2 linked regions of the Homo sapiens genome follow. The protein of the gene in region 2 interacts with the protein of the main gene of each other region in a pairwise test. Each region holds a gene or a part of one and is shown on either strand. Other genes may lie near its edges. The genes, in order: GCM1 and FBXW2.

The links.
Region 1: the proteins of FBXW2 (region 2) and GCM1 interact in binary tests that used the Homo sapiens proteins (3 or more experiments, as listed by UniProt).

The regions. Positions count from the first base shown.
Region 1 is NC_000006.12:53,127,562-53,143,925, forward strand, and holds part of GCM1 (chorion-specific transcription factor GCMa), read right to left. Parts: intron 6,764-16,364; coding exon 6,511-6,763; intron 4,559-6,510; coding exon 4,446-4,558; intron 3,371-4,445; coding exon 3,242-3,370; intron 1,386-3,241; coding exon 645-1,385; 3' UTR 1-644. UniProt on the Homo sapiens protein: Transcription factor involved in the control of expression of placental growth factor (PGF) and other placenta-specific genes. Binds to the trophoblast-specific element 2 (TSE2) of the aromatase gene enhancer. Binds to the SYDE1 promoter.
Region 2 is NC_000009.12:120,777,774-120,790,422, forward strand, and holds part of FBXW2 (F-box/WD repeat-containing protein 2), read right to left. Parts: intron 10,506-12,649; coding exon of another isoform or gene 10,486-10,505; coding exon 9,996-10,485; intron 773-9,995; coding exon 578-772; intron 1-577. UniProt on the Homo sapiens protein: Substrate-recognition component of the SCF (SKP1-CUL1-F-box protein)-type E3 ubiquitin ligase complex.

The sequences.
Region 1 (16,364 bases), on a different chromosome or scaffold from region 2:
TGACAATGAAAACCCAGCATGCAATGTGGCTGAGGTGCTGGGAACCCCAAACAATGTGGGGGAAAAAGCAGAGGGCACTTCACACCCCAGACGGGACAGGTTTCCATTCCTTACTGAGGGTGGAAATACTAGAGTGGAGGAGAAGAAGCCAAAAAAATTACTCATGTGAAGAAAAAAGCCTTGTCAGCCGGGCACAATGGCTCACGCCTGTAATCCCAGCACTTTGGGATGGTGAGGTGGGCAGATCACTTGAGATCAGGAGTTTGAGAGCAGCCTGACCAACATGGCAAAACCCTGTCTCTACTAAAAATAGAAAAATTAGCCAGGCGCAGTGGCAGGTGCCTGTAATCCCAGCTACTCGGGAGGCTGACGCAGGAGAATCACTCAAACCCGGGAGGCAGAGGTTGCAGTGAGCCGAGATGGCGCCACTGCATTCCTGCCTGGGCAAAAGAGCAAGACTCTGTCTCAAAAAAAAAAAAAAAAAAAAAAAAAGAAGGAAAAAAGAAAAAGAAAAAAGCCTTGTCTACTGCTTATCATGATTCTCATTTATCTGTGGTTATGTTTTAAAAATTATTTCCTAAGGAAATTCTTTCAGCCCTTCCCCATTTTTGAGGGGCTGGGGTGCACATAGTGAAAGATTTGGGTCATCTCAAAGGACACAGGTTCAGAAGCATATCATTGTTGCAGTGATCCAAACCCAAGTATGTCATTTCTTCCTCAAAATCCCATTTGCTGCTCTTGCTTGGCAGTGAATATTGCTGATGAGGATGAGAGGCGTAGGTGAAGAGAAAGGGGTCTTCTTGAGGTGAATGGTATGCAGGAGACTGGACGTAGCTGTTAAAATCCACATGTACTTTCTCTTCATAAAGATTACCCGCTGGATTTGGCCATAATGGGGGACAGCCAGTTTTGGCTGCAGGTGGCTCCAATGGAAGCTGCTGGTAAAAGGGTTCTGAAGAGTTTTGGGAAGGAGAGAAGCTGCAAGGCCAGCTGGTCAGAGGAAAAGGATAATTGGAATAACAGTTGTCAGCAAGATGATTTCTCCCCAAAGCAGCATTTTTACTCCACGCTTGTAGATCGCCATGATCAGAGTAGACTCCGGAGGCAGAAGGAGGAAGCAGGTCTCCACTACTGTAGGTTCTGCTACTGGACAATTTGCGCTTTTCATAGAGCTTCATGGGGTCCACAGTGGAAGTCTGGTCAGTCAGATCTGTGATTCCTCCCAGACCATAACTCTTGGAGAAGGAAAAGCAATCATTTAGTGAGTTCTGCTGAGGAGTGTTAGCTATTAAATGTCCACTGTAACTACCAGGCAATTGGACGCCTTCCTGGAAAGACCAAGTTAAAGGTAAACTCCCCTGACTTTGTGTTTCACCTGGAAGAGACTGGAAAGGAAAGTGAAATGCTCGTGTTAATAAGTTAAGCAAATCAAAACCACTGCCATAGGCACCCATGAGTTACTCTGTACAAATAAGAGCTCCATCAGATTTTCCTCATTCCTTACACATTAATACTTGACGCACAAACACATGCAGCGGCTTGACCACAACCACGAAACACTTGAAAAAAGCAAAGGCTGCCTCTGTTTCCATGTTAAAGCTTGCTAACCAGTAAGAGCCAAATTTCCCTACATTCAGTAGAGACATGAGTGTGTTTAAGATGTTTCACACTCAAACACAAATCTGATATCCTAATTGCTTTTTATTTATTCTTTTTTTTTTTTTTTTGAGATGGAGTCTCGCTCTGTTGCCCAGCCAGGCTGGAGCGCAGTGGCACGATCTTGGCTCACTGCAACCTCTGCCTCCCGGGTTCAAGCAATTCTCATGTCTCAGCCTCTCAATAGCTGGGATTACAGGCGCCTGCCACCACGCCCAGCTAATTTTTGTATTTTCAGTAGAGATGGGGTTTTGCCATGTTGGCCAGGCTGGTCTCGAACTCCTGACCTCAAGTGACCCACCTGCCTTGGCCTCCCAAAGTGCTGGGATTAGAGGCATAAGCCACAGTGCCTGGCCTCTAATTGCCTTTTTGAGAAACTTATAAGGAACTATTTACAAAATATCAAAGTATAACTTCAAAGATTTATATTATACTCAGCACAACTCCCAGGGTCTCTGTCTCTCAACATTTCCTCCCTTGACTATTCTATTTCTTAGTGCTGGTTGGAGTGTGAGAGACCATGGTTGCTATTGTTTTTTAGTTTTTCCTTTCCTCAAGAGATTTTTCTTTGAATTCGTGGGAATTTTGTTGAACCATAAATCAGACCTCTAGAACACGAGTGGTACATTCATTTATTTTTCTAAATGGAGGAGGTATATTGTTCTTTAGTTAATCGTTAAAAAAAGGATCTGGTTGAGAATTAAGTTATGCTCTTGTTTAGGTAAAACTACTAGCTGTTAAGGGGATACTTTTAGGGGGTAGAGAAAAAGGGCTGTGACCAGGTAGATTGGATGAGAGACTGAAATGCCACTTGACTTGTCCCATGGCTGGGAGAAAGGATGAGGAAATAGCCATTTGGGTTTGGGGGGCTTGCATTTCCCTACAACAGATCCACATTACAATTTTTTTAAATAAAGTACATTTACAGCCTCTAGGGATGGACCAGTTCCATCTCTGTTCTCCCAAAAAGAAATGTGCACCTTTGAACAGTAGAAAAAGTATAGGAACTACTATCAATATTAAACAGACAAATGCAAAAAAACCTATGATCTGCTGCCCATAAAGCAGTGGACTTCACATCACAGTTTGTCTATAGGGAGTAGCCTCCACTCCACTATTGCCACCCTGGGACAGCTATCATTTTCGGAAACTGCTTGCTTATTTCATCTTGGTAGAGTGTGCTAAGAAAACAATCTGTTTGGGGACGTATGGAAATTCAGGAGGGCGGGGAGGGGGCAGGCGGTGAAATGCATAAGGCTACTATTTTGTGGAGATTGTTTCAATTGTTTTTGGTTCTTGCCAAATATAAGTTAAGTGCTAATTCAAGTTTCTCTTTGTAATTGTAGTAGGGAAGATGATTCTCCAATTACATGGACTTTATGGTTCCCAGCATGCTACAAAGATGGTAGAAAGTAAGAGTAAAGCCTCAGATTTAATTTCTTTAGCAGATGCTTGTTTGTAGATGAGCCTGATAATCCATGATTTCTGGCTTTCCTGCGTCAGCAAGGGACCCAGGAAATCTACCGCCCCCAGCACAGGCGTGGCAAGCTACTGCATGTATTGAACATACATAATGAAGGATTACCCTGGTCTCTGTGCTCCCCTTCAGGCTCAATGAGACGGAGGAAGGTGCTGTGTTCACTTTCTTCATGGCTCTTCTTGCCTCAGCTTCTAACTTGGTTTCTGGTTTTGGATGATCATGCTCTCCCTTTGACTTAAATGAGACAAGGAAGTAGAAAGGAAATGATATAACACTAACTAGACTGTGTTTCATGGTGTATCAGTTTTTATTTACTGTGTGTCCTGCCCCGGGGGTGGTGTTGCAGTTGCCTATGGTAACCAGACTGGATGAACCTCTGAAGGCGCTCCCAAGCCCACCATGCTCCTGCCTGCCTGCCTCTCACCCACCCAGCAAAGCCATAATCACAGTGCTAAGTAACACTTACTAAATGCTTCCTGTGGTATGTGCCAGACACAAATAAACACCCTGTGTGCCTTATATCTCATTTCATCTTCAGCACAACCATTGAGGTACACACCATTATTATCACCCCCAGTTTACAGAACAGGAAACTGAGGCATGGAGTGATTACGCCAGCTGGGTAACCTCCTCTAGAAGTGAGGGACCTAGGATTCCCCTACCTGGAGCTGGCCAAAGCTGAGAGTCAATAGTTAAACATTCAGGAATTTTGTAGGCTGATTGTTAAAAATGACTGCTGGCTTGAAATCAGCCACGGTGAGAATATTTCCATTACAGAAGTTGGCAAATGCTACAAATCAGGACATTTTCTTTTTGGAGAGCTGGTTTACCAGCATCCCACTAATTCAAACCCAGGCAGTCTGAGTCAGGGTCCATTCTTCACCACTGTTGGTGCCACTGCCCCATTAGTACTCTTACACATTCTACAGAAAACTGGGACGTGGAAGAGGAAAATCACCTGCTCAGGTTTAAAGACCGAGTAAAAAGTCAGAGCTGGTGTTCAAACTCAGATTTGCTGAAGGCTACCAGCAGCATGCAGCATGCGGCATGCTTAGAAGCACTGTGCTAACCTCAGTGTGACTAGATTAGCTGCCACTTCTCCTGAGAAGTAGAAGCAGAGACAGGCAGCTCCCCTTCTAGAGCTCCCCAGCACTTCAAACATCTATTAGAAGTGCAGGGGACAGATACTTGCTCTCTTAGAGTGTGAGCCCTCGGGGATGGTGCAGGATCTCATTCACAGGTGCATTTCTAGCCTCTGGTGAAACTCCTCAGTAATGAAACTCTCACGTAACTAACTCAAAAATCCAACCTGGAAAAATATAAAGCGTCCGTCGTGCCTCCAGAAGTTGGTGACCGGGAAGCCCCCATGACCTCGGCAAGGGATGAGCTTCAGAGGCCCGTCACAGTTGGGACAGCGTTTCCCTACAAAAGAGCAGAGGAAAATGACCACACCTGGCTGAACCATGTCGGTTGTTGACTCCTGTGCAGTCTTGAAGATTTTAGCCCTGACTCAAGGACGGCAGAGTATAAATCTGGGCAGAGTTTCATGGGCTGAAATCCACTAGATATTACCCCTGACCCTCAGAAGCCTGGCCACTAAAATGGCCCACATGGGTCTCACACATGGATAGGGGAAGTGGTTGCCTACCAAGTAGGATATTTCACAGGTCAAGGCAGAGCTCTTCTGAGCAGAAAACCCCTCCCTACTTATTTAGTGATATTTGAAATTCTGACCAGGCACAGTGGCTCACACCCATAATCCCAGCACTTTGGGAGGCCAAGGCAGGCGGATCCACTTGAGGCCAGAAGCTCGAGACTAGCCTGGCCAATATGGTGAAATCCCATCTCTACTAAAAATACAAAAATTAGCTGGGCGTGGTGGTGCACACCTGTAGTCCCAGCTACTAGGGAGGCTGAGGCAGGAGAATCGCTTGAACCTGGGAGGTGGAGGTTGCAGTGAGCCGAGATGGCACCAATGCATGCCAGCTTGGGTGACAGAGTGAAAGTCTGTCTCAAAAATAAAAAAGAGAAGTTCTTTCACTTCACAATTAGAACTAAGGGTCAAGGGGCCAAGCTACATGGGAGAGTGAATGCAGCTACTACATTTTCACAGAGGTGTAAATGACTGATACCAGGTCCTGACCTAAGAGCAAGTTTTTAAAACAAACTACTGGGAAAAATATAAAGTAACTTGAGGTTTGAAGTGGGCAATGTACAGGGCATGCTGAATGTATCTATTTCATAATCCAGTGAATGTGTTTTAGAAAATGAACAAATATCTCAGCACGTGATTATGATGTGAACCTAAATGAATGGAATTGAGTCTAACCTTTCACAGCTGCCACTCCACATTAATGCACACATTGAGATCACTTAGGGACCCACAAGAAGTCCAGTGGCAAGTCCAATAAACTACTTTCTTCTAAATTTTACATGGGTCATTGATGAATTAACATTAACCCCTGAAGGGATACATTTTTCCTTTTATTTTTGGATGGAGTCTGTCACCCAGGCTGGAGTGCAGTGGCACAACATTGGCCCACTGCAACCTCCACCTTCTGGGTTCGAGTGATTCTCCTGCCTCAGCCTCCCGAGTAGCTGGGATTACAGGCACACACCACCACACCCGGCAAATGTGTGTGTGTGTGTGTGTGTGTGTGTGTTTGTGTGTTTTAGTAGAGATGGGTCTTCACCATATTGGGCAGGCTGGTCTTGAACTCCTGACCTCAGGTGATCTGCCTACCTCAGCCTCCCAAAGTGCTGGGATTGTAGGCATGAGCCACAGTGCCCGGCCATTTTTCCTTTCTTTTTGGAGATAGGATCTCACTCTATTGTGCGGCCTGGAGTGCAGTGGCTCCATTATGGCTCACTGCAGCCTTGACTTTCCAGGCTGAAGCAATCCTTCTGCCTCAGCCTCTGGAGTAGCTGTGACCACAGGCATATGCAACCACACCCGACTAATTTTTAAATTTTTTTGTAGGGGTTGGGGTCTTCTTATGTTGCCCCGGCTGGTCTGGAACACCTGGCCTCAATTTATCCTCTCATCTTGGCCTCCCAAAGTGCTGAGATTACAGGTGTGAGCCACCACACCTGCCATCTTCCCTTTAACAGGAGCCTTCAGTCCAGTGCCTTAACCCAAGGAGGCATTTTTGATGGTGGGTGCTCTGGGTATGGCAGATATGTGGGGTCCTTGCTGGAGCACAAGGGATCTGGTTGGTTCCGCTCCATATGCTCCATGTCAGAACAGCCTTGGCTGCCACTACACTCCAGGGTGATGGTTTTGCCCTTGGGCGGTGCTGGGACACAGTGACCCATCTGGCAGGGGCATCTGAGGGATGCCAGCTTTTTTGCTGGTGCCACTAAGCTCTACTCACGCTGCTGCTTCTGCCGGGCCTTGTCACAGATGGCAGGTCTCAGGTAGATCTTGCGCCCCTCCTCTGCGAGACAGTCGCGGCCGCACACCACCACACCCAGGCAGGACTTCTTGAGGATGCGGGAGTTGTGGTTGTTGGTATTGCGCATGGCCCAGCTGCTCAGGTGCCGCTGCGCATTCTTGTCCTCCGAGCTGTAGATGTGTTTGGCATAGGAATCTGGCCACTCCTGGAACCAGTCGGTTTTTTTCACGTTCTGATAGAAACACAAAAGATACGACTATACTTTAAGCTAGAAAACACAGCTGTCACCCACTGTGGAGTGAGTAGATAGGAAGGATGTTTTGGCATTCAGGAGCTGGGCAAGAGACCTTTGGCAAAAGCCTCCCTACATTTAATTCTGACAGTGGGATCAGCGAGCCCAGCACAACAGTGGCAACTGAGTGCTGTGTCTGTCAGGCATTCAGCCGCTGGACCAAAATAAATGATAGCCCCTGTGAGTTCCATCTGATTGACACTTCCCTAGCCCTCAGTGACACAAGAAATGACCATTTCTCAGTAGGAATTTTTGAAGGTTAAGTAATGCTATGCTCTTACACAATAACTATAGAAAACAGGGCCCAGTGTGGTAGGGTGTGCCTGCAGTCCTAGCAACTCAGGAGGCTGAGGTGGGAGGATGGCTTGAGGCCAGGGGTTCAAGACCAGCCTGGGCAACACAGCAAGACCCCTTCTCTAAAAACTCAAAATAAACTGTGGAAAACATTGTGGCGGGATAGTGAGATAATGTCTCGTACCACTCTGTGGTTATCTTACTGGGAGTCACACAGGTTTATGCAATGTCGCCAGAGATAAGCAGTGGGAGGGATGAAAAGCCCTGGTTCAGAGAGATCAAAGAGCCACTTTCTTCCCCAGAGATTTTCTTCCTTTATCTTTAACCCTACGTTCACGTGCCTCAAACATGACAAGGGAGTAAGAAAGAGCTTGTTTTGACTGAAAGCGTCTCTGTTATTGCCCAGGATTGGCGCTATGCCCTGTGTATGAACATTTGACTAAACTCTCCTTTAAAACATCACAGACAAGGAGAGTTGTCATTCAACGGACAAAGTTTCCATTTGCAAGATGAAAAGGTTCTAGAGCTCCTTTGCACAACAGTGTACATATAGTTACCACGACTGTACTATGCACTTAAACATGGTTAAGATGGTAAATTTTAAGTTGTGTTTTTGACCAAAATAAAATAATAATTAAAGAAAGGCCAGGGACACCAGACACTCAGTCCTTATAGCATACATTATTTTGCTCTCTGTGCCTCTGTTTCTTCATCTGTAATGTAGGGATAATGAGACCTGCCTACCTGAAGAGTTGTTCTGAAGATTAAATATGATTATATATATTAAATACTTAGCACAGCACCTAGCATGCTGTAAGCTCTAAATAATTGTTAGTCACTGATGCTGTGGCTCATATTCCTAGGCCCTACATTGGTGCACAGATGCTGCATTTGACAGACCCTTCCTTGTTCTTAGAATGAGAAACAGCAAGCAGTGTCAGCACTCAAACTTAGGCTGTGCCCATGCCCTACGGCTTTCAGAGACTTAGCATGGTGTAAGAACATTTTTCATCTAGACGGTTCTAGAAGGTGAAAATAGAAGATTCTAGAAGGTCCAGAAGAAAAGACTAGGCTGCTTCTTCTTTGCTTTCCCAACCAGAAAGCACAGCCCACAACATAAAAAAAAGACAAATTTTAGAAGAAAAAAGTAAATGTCAGTGTCAGGATTGACGGGCATTTACTGAGTTAGAATTCAAATTTAGAACGTGCCAAAGAACTTTGTAACTTGAGACTCTGGGCAAGTAACTTTGTCTTTAAAGCCTGTTTTGCTCTTCTCTAAAACTGAAACATTGATTAAAACTGCCTCACAAAAGTGCTGTGAAGAGCAGATGTGTTGTAAACTATAGATTCCATATAACGATACTTGTTGAATGGAATGTCATGGGGCCTGAGGTGGTCTGAGGAAATATAAATGAGAGGTTTTAGGTACATGCAGGGTAGTACTGTTTAGTGGTTAAGAGCTGCAGTGTGCAAACTAGGGCCCATGGGCCAAATCCTGCCCATTGCCTGCTTTTGTAAATAAAGTTTTATAGGAACACATCTATGTTCATTAACTGAAGTGTTGTCTATGGATGTTTTTACACCACCGCAGCAGAGACTGTATGGCCCACAAAGACTACAATATTTACTATCTGACTCTTCACAAACAGTCTGAGATTGCTGGCTGTAAGCTTGGACTCTGGAGGTACACTGTCTTTCTGGATATGAGTCTTAATGACATTCTTTTCTTCTCAGTGCCTCTGTTTCCTGCTCTGTAAAATGGGGTAACAGGAGTACCCCACAGGGAGGTTTTGAGGACTTACTAAATTAACATACACAATGCACTTAAAATAGTGCCTCACACGCAGCAGGTTCCACCTCAATGTTAACTGTTATTCTACCAGATCTGGAACTGCCCTCAGCCAGTCAATGTGGTTGTAAGAGTCACTGGCTTTTGGGAGAGAGAAGACCCAGTAGAGGTCACTTCATGCTTCATACCTTGCCAAGCCAAATGCAAGATAAGAGTCCAAGTCCCAGCTGGGTGCAGTGGCTCACACCTGTAATCCCAGCACGTTGGGAGGCTGAGGCAGGTGGATCACCTGAGGTCAGGAGTTCGAGACCAGCCTGCCCAACATGGCAAAACCCCGTCTCTACTAAAAATACAAAAAATTAGCCAGGTGTGGTGGCGGGCACCAGTAATCCTTGCTTCTTGGGAGGCCGAGACAGGAGAATCTCTTGAACCTGGGAGGTGGAGGTTGCAGTGAGCCAAGATCATGCCACTGCACTCCAGCCTGGGCGACAAGAGTGAAACTCTGTTTCAATAAAAAAAAAAAGAAAAAAGAGTCCAAGTCCCTATAAAATAAAAGCTTAATTGGTGCACCTCTTGTTCCACAACCTTCCTTCTCAGGGCATGACAGTGGCTAGCCCTTTGTGTGCTATGCTGTAACTACTGTGGTTTGGGAAGGGGGAAGGGTATAAATAATAGGAGGGTGGCATCTGGAAAAGTTCCCTGTGGTCCATCAGGCAGCTGCAGCAGAGATTCCCGGATGGCCAGGCCAGGATGCTGGTTGGACCATTTGCTTTTTCCAGACTGTCCCTCTCCTCCCCAATTCTCTGGTAATTTTGGGCTTGCTGAGACTCAATGCCCGGGGTGAGAGAAGCTCCCCAGGCAGCATGCCTCCTGCTCTCTCCACCCACCTTCTCTTCCCTTCCTTCCTTCCTTCTTCTGGCCCAAAGCTGCAAACAATGATGTCTTGTTTTCTGTCACAGAAATGCCATAGAAAGCATAATAGAGTATTTTATCTTTTGAAATAATAATGTAGGTTAAAACATTAAAATGTCTACTTTTGGCCAGGAATAGCGGCTCACACCTGTAATCCCAGCACTTTGGGAGGCCAAGGCTGGAGGATTGCTTGAGTCCAGGAGTTCAAGACCAGCCTGGGCAACACAGTGAGACCACGTCTCTACTAAAAAAACAAAACAAAACAAAATTTGAGTGTACTTTCCTCTAATATTGGACTGTAAAAAACTACTGGTGCACTTGAATTATTCCAGTATAAAACACAGTTGTCAGGATAGCAGAGATGAGGGCAAGGTAGACTTAGAGGAAAGCTGAGATTTTCATGCTTTAAAGGTGAGTGGCCACTTTAGGCTGGTCAGAGCCATAGATCCCATGAACCAGAAGGAGCGGAATGTATTTGTGAGAACATCTCAGATGTTCTGATTAAAGCAAAGACTCCTTGCCTGTAGAGGAAGAGATGATCTTTATCATCCTTTAAGCTTTTTTCTGACAGTCCCTCCACTGGTACCTTAGTTTTCCAGTTCTATTAATAATGCAGTAATGGCCAGGTGCAGTGGCTCACCCCTGTAATCCCAGCACTTTGGGAGGCCAAGGTGGGTGGATCACTTGAAGCCAGGAGTTCAAGACCAGACTGGCTAACATGGCGAAACCCCATCTCTATCAAAAATACAAAAATTAGCCAGGCATGGTGGCACATGCCTGTTATCCCAGTTACTCAGGAGGCTGAGGCAAAAGAATCGCTTGAACCTGGGAGGCAGAGATTGCAGTGAGCCGAGATCATGCCGCTGCACTCCAGCTTGGGTGACAGAGTGCTTTGTCTCAAAAAAAAAAAAAAAAAAAAAGCAGTAATAATTTGGACAACGTATGGACTGAGAACATTACTAGGAGTAAATATACTCACATCAAGCTAGTCTCTGGGCCATTTATTCATGCCTAGTCTTTGACCTGGACATTTAGTAGGGTCTTTGATGTCTTTTTACACTGAAATTAAGAGAAAACCCAGATCTCAATAATGCAGAGGAACCCAAGTGTCAGATGGATGACTGTGATTTCTGAAACCTGTTAAACCAAGACCTCAGAGAAGTAAAATTTAATAAGAAACAATAATCATTTCTTCATCATGTTTAGCGAATCCCCACAAAATACTTTCTTCTTTTTAGATCCTTTGTTTGTTTTAATTTCTAACTTTTCATGAGTAACTCTTTGTTTTTCCTCTTAGTTAAGAAGTTTATAATTGAAAGGGAATATTTCTGAGGTTTCCAACATGTAGACCTAGCTAATTTGTATTTGATTATCTCCTGGGTAACATCACTGGGGGGTTAACTGATATTTCTATGACTTCTGGGTATAATTTTTTACTAACAGATTTAATCCTCTAACTCAATCAAAATTTTTGTAGCTCTATGCACTTCTAGAACACCCTTCATACTCACCTCATTCTAACTTATTCAACTACTTGAAGTTTTCAGAGGTTATCTGAAGAAATGAAGTATGTATTGTTATATAAAACTAATCAATTAAAATACAAATTCTGAAATAAAGTATCAAAAATATCTACATTATCATATGATCATATTATGAAATTGATTTTCTTTTGGAATATAGTCTGCTCTTGCATAAAGTAAATATCTTCCAGGTTTTCATTAATTATATAAATAGCTTATTCATTACTTATAAATAAATATTTCTAAATAGAACAGGAATATCAAACAAACATACTTTAAAGCAAATTATATAGAGGTACAAAAATCAGATATTATGGAAAACAGGAAAAAAAACCTTCAACCAATGTTTTGATTTACATACAACTTTTCAGGAACTTATCTCTTCTGGGCCAACTGGAAATAAAACTCCAAGTGTTACCAAGGAAAAAAATTGAATTCAACAAAATGCTTTTGTGTTTGTTCAAGAATTACTCCTTAGGGCAGGCATGGTGGGGAATGTCTGTAATCCCAGCTACCCAGTAGGCTAAGGCAGAAGGTTGCTTGAGCTCGGGAGTTCAAGACCAGCCTAGGCAAGATAGTAAGACCCCCATCTCAAAAAAAAAAAAAAAAAAAAAGGGGGAATTACTGATTACTCTTTAGACTAATCCTGGTATTTCTTAGTCAAGAGATCAAGACTCAGGACAGGCCAGGCGCGGTGGCTCAGGCCTGTAATCCCGGCACTTTGGGAAGCTGAGGTGGGCAGATCACGAGGTCAGGAGATCAAGAACATCCTGATCTTGAAACCCCATCTCTACTAAAAATACCAAAAATTAGCCAGCCATGGTGGCACATGCCTGTAGTCCCAGCTACACGGGAGGCTGAGACAGGAGAATCGCTTGAACCCGGGAGGCAGAGGTTGCAGTGAGCTGGGATCACACCATTGCACTCCAGCCTGGGCGACAGAGTGAGACTCCGTCTAAAAAAATAAATAAATAAATAAAATAAGACTCAGGACAAAGTTCCTTATTTACTCTGAAAACACTAAGTTATGCCAAGTTACCTCAGCTTTCAAACCCCGTCTGTCTTCTCTTTTCGCTTCCCTTTTCCCTCCACCCAGCTAAGCAAGGGACCTGCTGCAGGGTACCAGCAGATGCAATAATGCTCCTATCTGTATCACACCAGAAGCACAGAGTGGCAGAAGAATTCTGGTCCAAATAGCAGAGGCCCCAGTGATCATGGGAGCCCATATAGGTAGAGCTCTCAGGGAAGTTCAAATGACCCTTGAGGTCAAGGAGAATGTCTGGCAAAGGGGGCAAAGTCACAGGAATCCCCATCAGAACAATGACAACGTGACCTGCTCATACAGGGGATAATAATTGACAAGAAATCCACAATCTGGTTTACCTGTTAGCTCCCTAGCACCAAGACACATCTGAGTACTACAACTGGCTTGTTCTGATTACATGTGGCCACATGGATTCACAGAGAGAGCTCAAATATTCATGTTTGATCACAATTTGGGGCTTATCTTTTGCAGAGACAAAGGAAGTTTGGCTGGCTAAAATCATAGTCCAGGAATGAACTAATCAGAACTGTGGCCCCTTTGCAGTTGACTTTACTATTCTATACTAGAGAATGTTCTCTCTACCAAAAAAAAAAAAAAAAAGTACTTAAACCTTGTAATTTTGTGAGTTAATGGCTTGGGGTGGCTTTGGCCATGGGTTTAATTTGCAAACTGCTCAGTGTGTAGGAACAAAATGATCCAGGGTGTTTGCTGGCTGTGGTGCTATTGGCACAACCTGAACTGAGAGAAACTGGCTGGTATTTGAAACAGAGTGGATATTCTCCTCTTGCTAGTGAAATGGGTACTATTTAAGAGAAAAAGGAACTGAATTTCTTCCCAATTTTCAACCAGAAGAAAATAATTCTTAGAGATTCAAAGTTCTCTCAAGTATTACAATCAGTACTAATGAGAGTGTGACACTCTCCAGGACCATGTAATCCACATTTTAAATCAAGACTAAATCAACACCAGACTTTTGCTGCTTGGATCAAGCAAACCTTAAAGCAATTAGATTTCACCTTTCCAAGTACAAATAATGACATAAATAATAGATGGTTGATCTAATTTTTTTTTCCTCTAACCTTACACAAACTCTTCTGGCCTTGCTCCCCATGCCAGAGTCATGTTGAACTGCACACTCCTTTCAAACTCCTCTAGCATTTTTCTACATGGCATTGATTCTCTATTTAGGCAGTAATCTTGTTCCACTAGCCCAGAAGATCATGAGCATTTCCACAGAAGTTAACATAGCTTAATGGCCCCAGTATCCCTGAGCCTACTACAGTGTCTCCTGCATTTAAGTTTCTCAAAAATGTCTGATATCTTAGTAAGGACATCACTGCTCACTGTTGTCAAAATTAACCCATAAACCTTGATGTATCTGAACTAGTTAAAGACACATGGAGTTTCTCAGACCAGAAGATGCAACTGGTATTTGGGTAATCATTTTGAAACTTGAAGGGCCGGGTGCGGTGGCTCACACCTGTAATCCCAGCACTTTGGGAGGCCAAGGTGGGTGGATCACGAGGTCGGGAGATCGAGACCATCCTGGCTAACACGGTGAAACCCTGTCTCTACTAAAAATACAAAAAATTAGCCGGACACGGTGGCAGGTGCAAGTAGTCCCAGCTACTTGGGAGGCTGAGGCAGGAGAATGGTGTGAACCCGGGAGGTGGAGCTTGCAGTGAGCCGAGATAGTGCTACTGCACTCCAGCCTGGGCAGCAGAGCGAGACTCTGTCTGAAAAAGAAAGAAAGAAAGAAAGAAAGAAACTTGAAGCCCGGGTGCAATGGTTCATGCCTGTGATCCTAGTATTTTGGGAGGCCAAGGTGGGCAGAACTCTTGAGTCCTGGGGTTCGAGACCAGCCTGGGCAACATGGCAAAACCCCATCTCTACTAAAAAGACAAATAATTAGTTGGGTGTGGGGTGCACGCCTGTAGTCCCCACTATTCTAGAGGCTGGGTTGAGAGAATCACCTAAGCCCGGGAATTCAAGGCTGTGGTGAGCTATGATTGCGCCACTGCACTCCAGCTTGGGTAATGAGAGTGAGACCCTGAAAAAAAAAAAAAAAAAAAAAAAAAAAAAAAAAAAAAAAAACAGAAAGAAAAAGAAAGAAAGAAGGAAGGAAGGAGAGAGAAAGAAACTTGAAACTTGAAGCATGTGAAAGGATAAACAGAAAAGGAATTTTCCTACGTGTTGTATAACTAATAATTCTGGCAAGAATATAAAATTATGAAATATAAACTATAAATGATCTAGATCGATGGGACAGAGAGTGAAATTAGAGAAATTTATAATCATAACAAGCCATTGCATTTGATCCTTTAAACCACATTTGTTAAATGCCAAAAAAGGTAGTCTGGGGAACATCAACCCCTGAAGGGCTTCAGGAAAAAAGTTTCATGGTCAAAAATAAGTTGGGGTAATACTGCCTAATACAGCCTCCTTCGGAGAGCCACCAATGCACAGGATGGTGAAAAAGACTCCAAGCCTGCAGTCAAGAAATCTGTTTATCCTTGTTGAACTTCGTATTGCTCTTTTTCTTTCTTCACAGTACCTATTAAAATTCCATGTAACTTGTACTCTACAGAATATATTTAGGGAACACTATTCTAAACATCTTAGAGACTGAGGCAGGATATGTGGAGAATTCCTATTTTCATTCTACAGGAGGTAACTAAGACTTAAGAAAATCAATTTCTCCAGGCTCACACAGATTCTAAACAATGGAGCCATTCATTAATGAATTCCATATTCAACATTTGTTGTTTCATACACGTCAGGCACTGTGCTAGGCACAAGGCTGACATTTCTAGAATTCTAGACTATTAGAACTAATAGGTACATACCAGACCATTTGGCGCAACCCCCTCATTTTCAGAGAGGAAAGGAAGTTTCAGAAAAGGTAAACAACTCAAGGATCTCCAAAAAAAAAAAAAAAAAAAAAAAAAAAAAAAAAGGAGATGGAACTAGAATTCAAATCTGGGGCATTTTTCTCCAAGTCCTGTACTTTTCATAATACACCCCTCTGTCTCTGGATATGCTCACACAATATAAACAATATAAAATCTAATGTCTGGAAATCTTTCCAAGAGCTCAAGTGTTTCTTGGTCTGATGACAAAGCTAGCATTAAACCCAGACGAGGATGGTATTCTCTCTACTCAGAAAATACTAAGGAATATTTGCATTTTAAATCATTTCCCCGACATATTTAACAAATTGGAAGACAGCTATTTCCGTGAGCAATCTTAGTACTTTTTAATGAACTATAAATACATTTCTAAAACCAAATGTGCATTTTTTGCTATACATTTCTCAGTTTAATGTCATGGGTAGCTGCAAACACTTTCATTTTTGGAAATTCATGTTGGAACATGAACTTTTATGAGCCTCAAGTTTCCCTATAGGAAAGAGGTCTTCATCTCTTGTTTATGGATCTGATGAAGAATCCTGTCCCAGAAAAAATTGCCAGTTAAGACACAGTGTCACCACCATTTCATGGGGTTCTCAAACTCACTAAAACTCTTGCTCTAGAATGTGACATTGTAAAGTCTTCTACATATCTGTTTACTTCAACTCTTGATTTCGTGTCTCTCCAACTTCTATTTGGGTGTTGCAATCATGAAGTTAGAAAAAGGTGAAAATATGGGTCCTGGAGCCAAGAGAAATTAAAGTTTACTTTAAAGTTTCCCTACAACAGTGACAATAATTGTAATACTAATTAAGAGCAACAACAAACACAAATCCCTAAAATCGATATTTGCATGATTTAACTGTGGTTTCTAGAACCATTTGTAAATGGATGGAAAGTGGGGCACACTTTCTGTTCTCCAGCTCTGTCCCAAGATCTACGAAGAGAGGATACAGATGTGGGGTCGGGGGTGGTGAGAGGGGTAGAGGGGGTGGGGTTGGAAGTTAAGGAAAAGCATAAAGAGAAACAAAAGGAAGTCTTCGTTAGAAATTCTGGAACAGTTACAAAG
Region 2 (12,649 bases):
GACCAGTTTTTGCAAAATAAGGATGCTATACATTTATTAGGAAACATTCAGGTATGTTTCTTTCGCCTTATCTCTAGGTGGTAGCTTGTTTTAATCAACTGTCAACCAAGCTCAAACTGGATGTAATCTGTGTAGACCACACAATCTAAGAACCACCGTCACACCAAAGAACTTTCAGCCCTAATGCTACAAATAAAGTGGAATTTACACAAGTAGGATTTACTCAGTTCAGAGGTATGGAATCTGATAAAAGCCAAGGGACTGTCTGTTCAATAGGATATAAATGAAACAGGAGGGGGGAGAGAGAGAATGAGAGAGAGAGAGAGAAACAGAGAGAGAATGAAAACTACCCTTCCCACCAGAAGGGTACACACATAGAAGAAAGCAAGAAAAAGCAAAACTGGGTAAAACATTCGAAATAAGAGTAACTAGAATAAAGGGAAATAACTGCAATGACTAAGAAAGAGGGTTGAAAAAAGCAGGTTAAATTAAAAAAAAAAAAGCATTTCACATTCTTGGCTCCTGGCTTAAAAGGATGAGGCTAAGTTGTAAAAACCCTTGAAAAAGGGCAACCCACCCGCCCCCGTGTGCCCCCGAAAGTGCTGGGTCCTGGCTCCGGAACTCCATTCCCAGCAAGCCACAGTGTTGTCAAAGGAGCCTGTCACAAGCTTCTGTTCATCAAACTTCACCGCTGCACAAGTGTGGGTCTGGATGCCATAAACGCACTGCCCTGTGCTCACATCCCACAGCTTTGCAGACAAGTCATCTGACCCTTCAAGAGAAAAACAGGGAGGTTAATAAGAAAACAAACACACTAAAGAAGGAAAATCAATCCCAAAATCATGGTGTTCTTCAAGAACATTAACGGTCCCTTCCTCTAGCACTTTACTTTACCACTGAAGAAATCAAAGCACGGAGAGAGTAACACAACTTGCTTAGAGTCACCAAAACGGAGTCAAAAGCACTAGGACAGAATCCAAGCTTTTTGGGTGAGACACTTTCCCTTAACTTTTCAGGCTACAGAAGGTCATTAGACTAAAAGCATCCCTTGGTGCTTCCACTTGAAAAATTTCATAAATCCTTGGCTATCACGAGCTCTCTGATTTGACTTCAAATAAATAGGTATTACACATGACTGCATGTTTACACTTGCATGCTTGTCCATTACCCAACAGTTCTGAACAAATAAGGATTGTTAAATAGTAAAGGTGTTTGCTGAAATATATTCCACTCTAAGGCAAGTCAAGGACAAACCTCAGAGCCTGGGCTAACTTCTGCAAAAGCTAACTGCTAATTGCTCCAGTCATCTTGAAATACGTGAAGGAAGAAACCTCAAGGAAAACCTGGGATAAATTATCCCCAGATATTCACAACTCAACAAAAAGTTTGTAAAGCCTCTTAAGATTCTGAAGGGAAAAGTTGGCTTTATTTCTGCCTCTGATGAAAATTCTATACTAATCATGGTGACAATTCAGGACTTTGCTTTAAGTTTAAAATCCTAATGATTAATTCATTCTTACAATGACCCTTCAATAAGCCTCAACAAATAAAAAGACATTTTTGAGAATCCACTAAATACAGTCACTATGATAATGGCACAGTATCCTAGGAAAGCACCAAATGACCAGTTTTTAAAAAGCTGAAATGACTAAAGCCAGCCACAATTCTACCTTCAGTCAAGAACCACTGTTTGAGACAATGGAAAAATAGCCATCACTTATGAAAGAGCTAGAGTATGAATTTTAACCTGGGAAAACTATGATAGCATACTGAAATAAAGACTGTATTTATTGTCACTTTGCTATTTAGACTGTTTCCTTCTGTATAAAAAGAGGGGTAGGACTTGGTTGGTTCTCAATGGCCATGTGATACAACTTTATCAAAACACACAGGCAGGTCCCTATTTTCAGAGAGTTTAACTTGGGGAACATCTGAGGCAGGGTCCAATAATCTTAAAAGTTTGCCAGGTGATTCTAACTCATCAGCAATATTTTGAGAGCCAATGGTCTAGAACGGTGCTATCCAACAGAAAATATAATGCAAACTGCAGATATAATTTAAAATGTCCTAATAGTTACATTAAAAAAGAAATGTTGGGCCGGGCGCAGTGGCTCATGCCTGTAATCTCAGCACTTTAGGAGGCCAAGGCAGGCATATTGCCTGAGCTCAGGAGTTCAAGACCATCGCGAAACCCTGTCTCTACTAAAATAAAAAAAATCAGCCGGGCATGATGGCGCGCCTATATTCCCAGCTACTCGGAAGGCTGAGGCATGAGAATCGCTTGAGCTGGGGAGGCAGAGGTTGCAATGAGCTGAGATCACGCCACTGCATTCCAGCTTGGACTACAGAGGGCCTCCACCTCAAAGAAAAAAAAAAAAAAAAGAAATGTTAGCCAACATGGTGAAACCCTGTCTCCACTAAAAAAAATACAAAAATTAGCCAGGCATGATGGCGTACGCCTGTAGTCCCAGCTACTCAGGAGGCTGAGGCAGGAGAATCACTTGAACCCGGGAGGAGGTTGTAGTGAGCCAAGATCACACCACTGCACTCCAGCCTGGGCAACAGAGGAAGACTCTGTTTCAAAAAAAAAAAAAAAAGAAAATGTGTTAAAATAATTAAATGTGTTTAACTCAGTATGTCAAAAATGTCATTTGAACATGTAATCAATACAAATATTGAGATATTTTATATTCTTTTACATTGTATGTCTTTGAAACCCAGTATTTCACACCTCCATTTGGACTAGCCACAGCTCAAGTACTCAAAAACCACATGGCGCTAGTGGCTACTGTACCGGAGAGCGTAAGCCTAGATAGTCTTTAAGGCCTTCAGTTCAGGCATGTTGTGACTGTATTCCTAAGGAGCTAGAGTAGGAAAGGAAATCATTTTAGGTCCTTTATGAGCTTGGTTTTGGTTACCAGTGTTCAACTGGGGTCTCATTCATTCATTCAACATATATTTATAGAACTTCTGTGTCAGGCAGGATTCTTGTTCTCATGGCACTCAGTCTACTTGGGAAGACAAAAAGGCTAAACAAGCAATAATAATTCAGTATAGTAGCTGGCAGGCACTACAAAAGCCCATAGCAAATACAAGGAGAGGACAAGAAGAGAAAACATCTCAGACGAGGCTCCACTGAATTTATGACCATGCTCTATAACACGTGCCTTAGGAACTGGCATGATTGGTTCTTCAACTACACTCCTCTTTTGTTTTTAAGCTGGGCTTTGGTATAGGACTGTTTCAAGAAAGAATATCATGGCAAAAAAAAAAAAACCTTTAAGTTTTAACTAATTTAAACCTAAGGATGAATAAGTTAGCCAGGCCAAAACAAAACAAAAGGAATAGTATATACCAAAACTTTTTCTGTAAAGGGCCTGATAGTAAGTATTTTAGACGTTGACCTATTGAGTTGCAATTACTCTCTTCTGCTGGATTTGGCCCACAGTCCACAGTTTGCCAATCCCTGGTATATACCTATTAAAGCAACTATTAAATATCTCTATATGCAACACAAAAATTATTGAAAAGGAACTGGGATCAAGTCATAAAGAACTATTTGGAATCATTCAAAAAACCGTCTAGGAGTTATTTACAATGCTTGTCAAAAGCACTGCCTAAAACATGAACACTGATTATGAAAACAGTTCAGTCTGACTGCGAAATAGTGGCAAGGTTTGGCTGCAGAACTGGGTTAGGAGGTTGTTTAACTATGACCTTATTTGCATATCAGAAAGATCACTATGGCTATATCATGGAAAAAGGTTTGAAGGGGGGAAAACTAGAGGCAAGAAGGCAGTTAAAAACCAGGGGAGAGGACAAACAAAATGTGACACATACATGGAATATATTTTATATACATACACACACACACACACACACACACACACACACACACACACATACACACACACACATATATACATACATGGAATGGAGTTATTCAGCCTTAAAAAGGAATAAAATTGGCCGGGTGTGGTGGCTCACACCTGTAATCCCAACACTTTGGGAGGCCGAGGCGGGAGGATCACCTGAGGTCAGGAGTTTGAGACCTGCCTTACCAACGTGGAGAAATCCCATCTCTAATAAAAATACAAAAATTAGCCAGGCGTGGTGGCGCACGCCTGTAATCCCAGCTACTTGGGAGGCTAAGACAGAAGAATTGCTTGAACCCGGGAGGCGGAGGTTGCGGTGAGCCAAGATGGCGCCACTGCACTCCAGCCTGGGCAACAAGTGCAAAACTCCGTCTCAAAAAAAAAAAAAAAAGAATAAAATTCTGAGATGTTATGATATGGAAGAACCTTGAAGACATCATGCTAAGTGAACTAAGCCAGCCACAAAAGAACAAATACTGTATGATTCCACTTATATTAGGTTCCTAGAGTAGTCAAATTCATAGAAAGTAGAATGGTGGGCCAGGCATGGTGGCTCATGCCTGTAATCCCAGAACTTTGGGAGGCCGAGGCTGGTTCACCTGAGGTCAGGAGTTTGAGACCAGCCTGGCCAACACGTTGAAACCCCGTCTGTACTAAAAATACAAAAATTAGCCAGACACGGTGGCGCATGCCTGTAATCCCAGCTACTCGGGAGGCTGAGGCAGGATAATCGCTTGAACCTGGGAGGTGAGGTTGCAGTGAGCCAAAATTGAGCCACTGCACTCCAGCCTGGGCACCAAATTGAGACTCTGTCTCAAAAAAAAAAATAAAACAAGCAAGCAAGCAGAATGGTTGTTTTGCCACAGGCTGTGGGGGAAGGGGCATGGGCAATGTTTAACTGACAGGGTTTAGGCTGGACATGGTGGCTCATGCCTGTAATCCCAACACTTCAGGAAGCTGAGGCAAGAAGAGTGCTTAAGCCCAGGAGTTAGAGATCATCCTGGGAAACATGGTGAGACCCCATCTCCATAAAAAATACAAAAATTAGCTGGGCATGGTGGCACACACACGTAGTCCCAGCTACTTGGGAGGCCAAAGTGGAAGAATCGCTTGAGTCCAGGAGGTAGAAGTTACAGTGAGCCAAGATCATGTCACTGTACTCCAACCACTCCAACCTGGGCTACAGAGTGAGACCTTATCTCAAAAGAAAACCCCCCCAAAAACAAACAAAAAAATTGGATACAGTTTAACTATATAGTGTATTATATACTGTTTATACAGTTAACACTGTATAGTGTTTAACTGATACCATTTTAGTTTGGGAAGATGTAAAGTTCTGGAAATGGATAGTGGTGATGACTGCACAACAACGTAATGTACTTAATGGCACTCAACTGTATGCTTTAAAATGATTAAAATGGTAAATTTTATGTTATGTATGTTTTCGCACAATTTGCAAAAAAAAAGGTTATCCAAACTAATTATTTAAACTAGTTTTTATAGGAAAACATTGTGCCAGTTTTACACCCTAAAAAAAAATAATAATAATCAGGTTGAGTCGAGTTCCATTTATAGTGATGCAAGTCTACTCCTGAGAATCCTTTAGGAATCACTGTTCTCTGCTCCTTTCTGGCTTTATGTCAGCCTCCCCTCTGGACTCCCATTTGCTGCACTGGCTAACCCAACATGTTTTCAAAGAGGTCACCAGTGATGCAGCATAGAGGTGAAAGAGGACTAAAGAAATGTGGACTCTCACACTGCACGAAAGAAAAAAATCCCTCCCCATTCAGTATCTTAAAAATCTTAATAATACTTTAAAAAAAATCAGACTATTGCACAGAACTCTAGATTTCAGGCTTCTCTTGAAGTCAGATCTAACAACTCTGACCCTGAATCCCACCCACATGGCAATAATTTATTACAATGGAGCACCAGCTGCACTCTTTAGAAAGGCAAGTGTTCTTGATTTGCTATAGTCCACACAGAGACTTTTACCTCAGTCAGGTCATCTTCCTGGTCCCAGTGTGTATGTTCCACAAGAAAAAACTGCTCTAATTCATCCGTGTATGCCCTCACATTGTTTTTCAAACAGTAGGCATCCCATAAGTAAATATCTACTGAACAGCACAAAGCATAATAGATTCCTTTCTTACCATTTCAGAAATAAATTGCGAAAGAGAAAGATAACTACCTCAATGTCATTAGCCATTAATCTCTTCAATAAAACTGTCTATTGCTTACTCAAGGCACTAATGTGAGAGTCACTAAGTTTATTGCCAAATTCAGGGTTTCCCAATTCCACCACAATGAGAATTCAATCTCTTAAGTAACAAGATGACACAAACACATGTACAATTCTGTCACAAATACCTCTCTTCACAGTTCCAGGGATGCTGCTGTTAGAAAAATTAAACTAATACTTTGGATCATTTTCAACCACTGCACAGCGTAATTTTAAATATGCAAACCTGATGAATTTAATCAGAATAAAAATCACATTAACATACAGACCCACCAAGAGAATAATCTTAAAATGTAGAATTGTAGATATTAACTTTCCAGGTAGTTAGAGAATTCAGTGAATATTTCCCATTTACTTCCACTCCAAGTAACTGCAGTTTTTACTACATTTCAAAAATAAGGTTTGATGAGAGAAGAAAAAAACTTTTTAAAGCAAGAGGACCTAGGCATAGTGGCTCACACCAGTAATCCTAGCATTTTGGGAGGCTGAGACGGGCGGAGTGCTTGAGCCCAGGAGTTCGAGACCAGCCTGGGCAACATGGTGAAATCCTGTCTCTACAAAAAATACAAAAAGGATCCAGGCATAGGGTTGCTCGCTTGTAGTCCCAGCTAAACCCGGGAGGCTGACATGGGAGGATCACCTGAGCCCAGGAGGTGGAGGTTGAAGAAAGCCAAGATCACATCATTGCACTCCAGGATGGAGCTACCCAGTGAGAGGTTGTCTCCAAAAAAGAAAAAAAAAAAATGCGGCTGGGTGCAGTGCCTCACACCTGTAATCCCAGCACTTTGGGAGGCCGAGGCAGGCAGATCATCTGAGATCAGGAGTTTGAGACCAGCCTGACCAACATGGTGAAACCCCTTCTCTACTAAAAATACAAAAATTAGCCGGGCTGTGGTGGCGCGTGCCTGTAATGCCAGCTACTGAGGAAGCTGAGGCGAGAGAATCGCTTGAACCCAGGAGGAGGAGGTTGCAGTGAGCCGAGACTGCGCCACTGCACTCTAGCCCGGGTGACAGAGGAGCTCCTGTTTCAAAAAAAAAAAAAAAAATGCTACAGGTGGTTGTGAAAAAATGGTCAACTGCCAGTAGGAGCTCCAAGCTCCAAGATGATACTGCATCTTAATATTTTTTTTTTTTTTGAGACAGGGTTTTGCTGTGTTGCCCAGGCTGGAGTGCAGTGGCACAATCTTAGCTCACTGCAACCTCCACCTCCTGGGCTCAAGCGATCCTCTCACCTCAGTCTCCCAAGTAGTTGGGACCACAGGTGTGAGCCAGCACACCCAGCTGTTTTTTTATTTTTTTGTAGAGATGGGATTTTGCTATGTTGCCCAGGCTGGTCTCAAAACTCCTGGGCTCACATAATCTGCCTGCCTTGGCCTCCCAAAGTGTTGGGACTACAGGCATGAGCCCCCTCATTTGGTCAACTGCATCTTAATCTTTTAAAATCATGAGGCAAAAGAGACATGGAAAAGCCATCACCACAACAGAGAAAGTACATCAAAGCCTAGAAGAACTGGTGATGTTGTTCTAGTAATCAGGCTTGTAACACAAGGAAAATAAAGTGTGAAATAACTTCAGGATGACAAACCAAACCATGAAATGCTTTAAATCAAATGTTTATTTTCCAAAACCAGCAGAGTGTCTAGCATTTCAGAGAAAATATCACCACATAATACATACCCTTAATGAATAAAGAAATGCATTGTAAAACGGTCTTGAGAAATGATACATCTCAACATTAAAAATATTTAAATTGAGTCTGGTGAGACTCCTGAGGGAGAAGCAAGTTACTTAACACTATATTGGTATGGCATCAATTCAATCTATCTGGAAAGGGCACTAAGAAGAGCTATAAAATTGGGCCGGGCACGGTGGCTCACGCCTGTAATCCCAACACTTTGGAGGGTGGATCACCTGAGGTCAGGAGTTTGAGACCAGCCTGGGCAACAAGGTGAAACTCCGCCTCTACTAAAAATACAAAAAAAATTAGCCGGGTGTGGTGGCGCACACCTGTAATCCCAGCTACTCGGGAGGCTGAGGCAGGAGACTCGAACCCTGGAGGCAGAGGTTGCAGTGAGCCGAGATTGCACCACTGCACTCCAACCTGGGTGACAGAGTGAGACTCCATCTCAAAAAAAAAAAAAAAAAAAAAAAAAGAGCTATAAAATAATTCATACTTCTGTATCTGGTGATTCTACTTTTAGACTTCTATCCCAAATGAATTCAAGGGAAAAAGAGGTAATACAAAGACACTAATAAAAACAGAAACAATCTGAATATGCATTGATATGGTTAAGCTTTGTGTCCTCACCCAAACCTCATCCTGAACTGTAATCCCCAGGTATTGAGGGACAGACTTGGTGGGAGGTGACTGGATCATGGGGGTGGCCCCCCATGCTGTTCTCATGATAGTGAGTGAGTTCTCTCCAGACCTGATGGTTTTATAAGGGCCTCTTCCTGCTTCACTCACACTCTCTCTCTCCTGCTGCCTTGTGAACAAGGTGCTTGCTTCCCCTTCGCCTTCCGCCATGATCATATTGCCTTCTGACATGATTGTAAGTTTCCTGAGGCCTCCCCAGCCATGTGGAACTAGGAGTCAATTAAACCTCTTTTCTTCATAAATTACCCGGTCTTAGGCAGTTTTTTTAGCAGTCTGAGAATGGACTAATATATGCATTAATATGGAAATGGCTAAATAATGACTATTGATATATTTACAAAAAGGAACAGTTTATACCGTAATACACAAATGTTTATTGGAAGTTATCTTGGATGAAAAAGAACACCAAGTATTTCTATATATTATATACAATGTAAGGAAACAGGCATTGGGATTATTAGCAAGAACTGCCTGGAGTTATTCTAAATGCTGCCTAAGAATTATTTACATTGCCTGTCAAAATGTATTATCTAACACATGGGCATTAGTTATAATCATATACAGAAACACACGTCCATTACAAATGGAAAATAACATATAATTTTAAATTTTTAATAATTATATTGTTTCATAAAATTACTTAATTGCCTAGTTAAAAAATATCCAGCTCTCTCTGTTCCCAGGCCCAAACTCCAACTTCTACTTCTTCTACTTAGAATCACAGGATTTCAGAGCAAGGAAGAAATATCTCCTTTCATATATACATATATATTTATTTTGAGATGGAGTCTCACTCTGTCACCCAGGCTGGAGTGCAGTGGCACCATCTCAGCTCACTGGAACCTCCGCCTCCCGGGTTCAAGCGATTCTCCTGTTTCAGCCTCCCGAGTAGCTGGGATTATAGGCGCATGCCGCCACGCCCGGCTACTTTTTCGTATTTCAGTAGAGACGGGATTTCACCATGTTGACCAGTCTGGTCTCGAACTCCTGAGCTCAGGCAATCCACCCGCCTCGGCTTCCCAAAGTGCTAGAATTACAGGCATGAGCCACTGCGCCCGACCTCCTTTCCCATATTTTAAAGATACAGAGAGGTTAAGTAATTTGGCCATAATGATCTAACTACTTGCTAGGATTAGATACCAATTTTTCCACTGTTTTTTTCCTCAAATATCAGTGCCAACAGAAAAAGAAACAGAATTTAGCAACAGAGGACTACACATGGAGGAAACACAAAGAAAAAGTAATCTATAGCTTTGTAATTCACATAATGTTTAAAAGACAGTCTGAAGTGTTTTTCTCATAAAATTTTATAAAAATGATTGTGTTCTCTAGAGAGAAGGAAGAGGATAAGGGGGGGGAACCACTCAGGATTAGAGAAAAAAAGTCACTGTACATATCTCATATAATCAACACTTGTCATTCTCAAAGCTCAAGACTGGTTCAAGATTACACCCTATGAAATACAAAACAAAACCCAAAAAGCAGTTTCAACATCTCTTACCTGTACAGAGAAGTCCATCTTTGTAGTAAAGTGCATACACTCTGGCACTGTGTCCAATTAATGACGAGGTTTCAAAGGCTTCATGGTCCTCCAGTTGCTTCATTCTCAAAATAGCCTTCAAATAAACCTTCTTCCAGTGCAAAGCGTCCTGAACAGAATCATCTATCTGCCAGCCCAAATTTTTACATGCAGTCTGCCACACCTCTGTACAGGCACTTATCACCTTATTCCACTGTTTAGAGACGAGGCAGCATGTGAGTAAAGTCTGAGGATCGAGCCATTTTAACAAATAAAAACTGAGCTCCAGGGGAAGGAGTTTGAGGAAGTCCCGCTTGAGGAGAGTCTCTAGGTTATTGGAGAGATGCCTGAGCTGGACTGCCCCACTCAGACTAATCAGGTGATCCAGAGTTTCATTTTTCTGCAAGTCCGTCAGAGAAAGAAATGTAACAGAAATGTTATCAAGCCATGTCTCAAAGTCCTTTCTCTCCATAAGGTTATGGAAAAATTTACCTGTGGCACATCAAAATATTGTATTAGTTCTGCTCAAAAAGACTGTTCAAGCAAGACTGCTAACAAATGAAGTATTAAAAATTAGTGTAAAAAATCTGCCATTACAACTTTATGCGTAGTTACATTACAACTTTACAGTTAATACACCATATTTATCTGAACACTTTCCATGCACACAAAAGAAAACACATTTGAGAAAACATACTTTAACAAATCATGAATCCAAAACATGTCAGTGAAACAGACTGGCGTGTGTGACTTATTCCTCTTGAAGTCTAGCACGTGCTACATGCATCTTCATAGTAATAGATTTACCAACAATTCATTATAAAACAGTATATTTTACAATACACCCTTCCCCCATCAAAACCATTATAAAACAATTTCCTTAATGAATTCCTTAATACATTCTATTTGGGTACTAAAATCACAAAAGCAAGCACCAGGATGTGACAATCAGAAACAGTCTCCTGAGCAGTAACCTGAGACACTGATTGTCATGGCAGGCACAACCTGTCACCAAAATCATAGAACTGACTACTTGGTTTTGCAACAGATGTTCAGATGAAAAGGTTTAGGGAAGAAAAGCAGGTGTGGTAAGTTATCTGCCTCAGGAATTCTGGTTCTTCCAACTTCTTTATGGCACTGCCTGTTTAGAACATGAATTATAAAAGAACTTATGTGGCTTTAGTCTGTTTTTCTAAACCTCATATGAGCTAGTGACAACTCTTAACCACGTGCCCCCGAGAGCCATGAGGGGTCCTGGAGGCCTGCACAAATAAAGCAAATTAATAATCCTGATGTTTATAAAACACCAGAAAATAGACATTATCATCTTCACTTTGCAAATGAGGAAACTACAGGTTAGAGAAGGTATGTGATTTGCCTATATTCACAGGGCTACTAAATAGCCACAGAACAGACTGGACGCCAGTGCTCTCAAGATCAGGTACCAAGCTCTCTCTCTAAAATAAGTGACAACCAGGAGAACCACGACCAAGTGGTAAGATCTGGAGGTAGTGTGTCTACCCGTTAGACCATTTTCTCCTTTAGGAGAATGACAAATTGCTCCTGAGCTAACTGTAACAAATAATTTTTTTTAAAGTATCCTGTATTAGTGTCAACAGGTGTTAATTCACTCTTAATGAGGATTAGACTAATGAAAGATTACAAAAAATATAACCAGTAAAAACTATCTTTCTCAAGACTATGTGTTGATAGATGTTAATGCTGGGTGATGTGTACATAGGGATTTATTATTCTCTTTATTTCCATATATTTAAATATTTCCATGGTTTAATAAAAACTTTCCTTCTGAATACTCAGTTTCTCACAAGACTGTCATATTAATTTTAAAAACATATGTCCAAATTAATGTGAAAAAGGAAAGTTAATTTCTTTCCAGACATATCACCTAGATCAGGTCTACACAAAAAGCAAGATCTCATCTTTCAACTTTGATAATGTAAGGTGAGTAAAATTGTAAGTGTCCAATATCAAATTTGGCAATAACATTCTTAGACAAATAAGCAATCTGATTTATTAGTAGAAGCAACCAAACCTTGCAATCACATCATCTGCTAACAGTTTTGATTTCTGGAACTGTGACTAGACTTCAAGATAATACGTTTCAAGCCAAAGTTTGGGCTAGAGAAGATTTATTAATCTGTATTAAAAATTTACCTAGCTGACAAAAAATAATCAGATGGCTAAAAGTTTTATCGACTTATCACGCAATAACAAGCCCCCTCCTTCCTCTAAATCCTAACAACCCTCTTATCTATACAACATTTCTTCAAAATCTCTACTTCTAAAAAATAATAATTTGCAACAAGACAAAGCAATTATCTTCTGTGGGCATCTGCATATTGTCACAATAGCTAGTTAATTAATACTGGTCAATTAAAAACACACACCAGGCTGGGCACAGTGGCTCACGCCTGTAATCACAGCACTTTGTGAGACTGAGGTGGGCTCGGCCGGATCACGAGGTCAGGAGATCGAGATCATCCTGGCTAACACAGTGAAACCCCATCTCTACTAAAAATACAAAAAATTCCCCTGGCATGGTGGTGGGTGCCTGTAGTCCCAGCTAGTCGGGAGGCTGAGGCAGGAGAATGGCGTGAACCCAGGAGGCGGAGCTT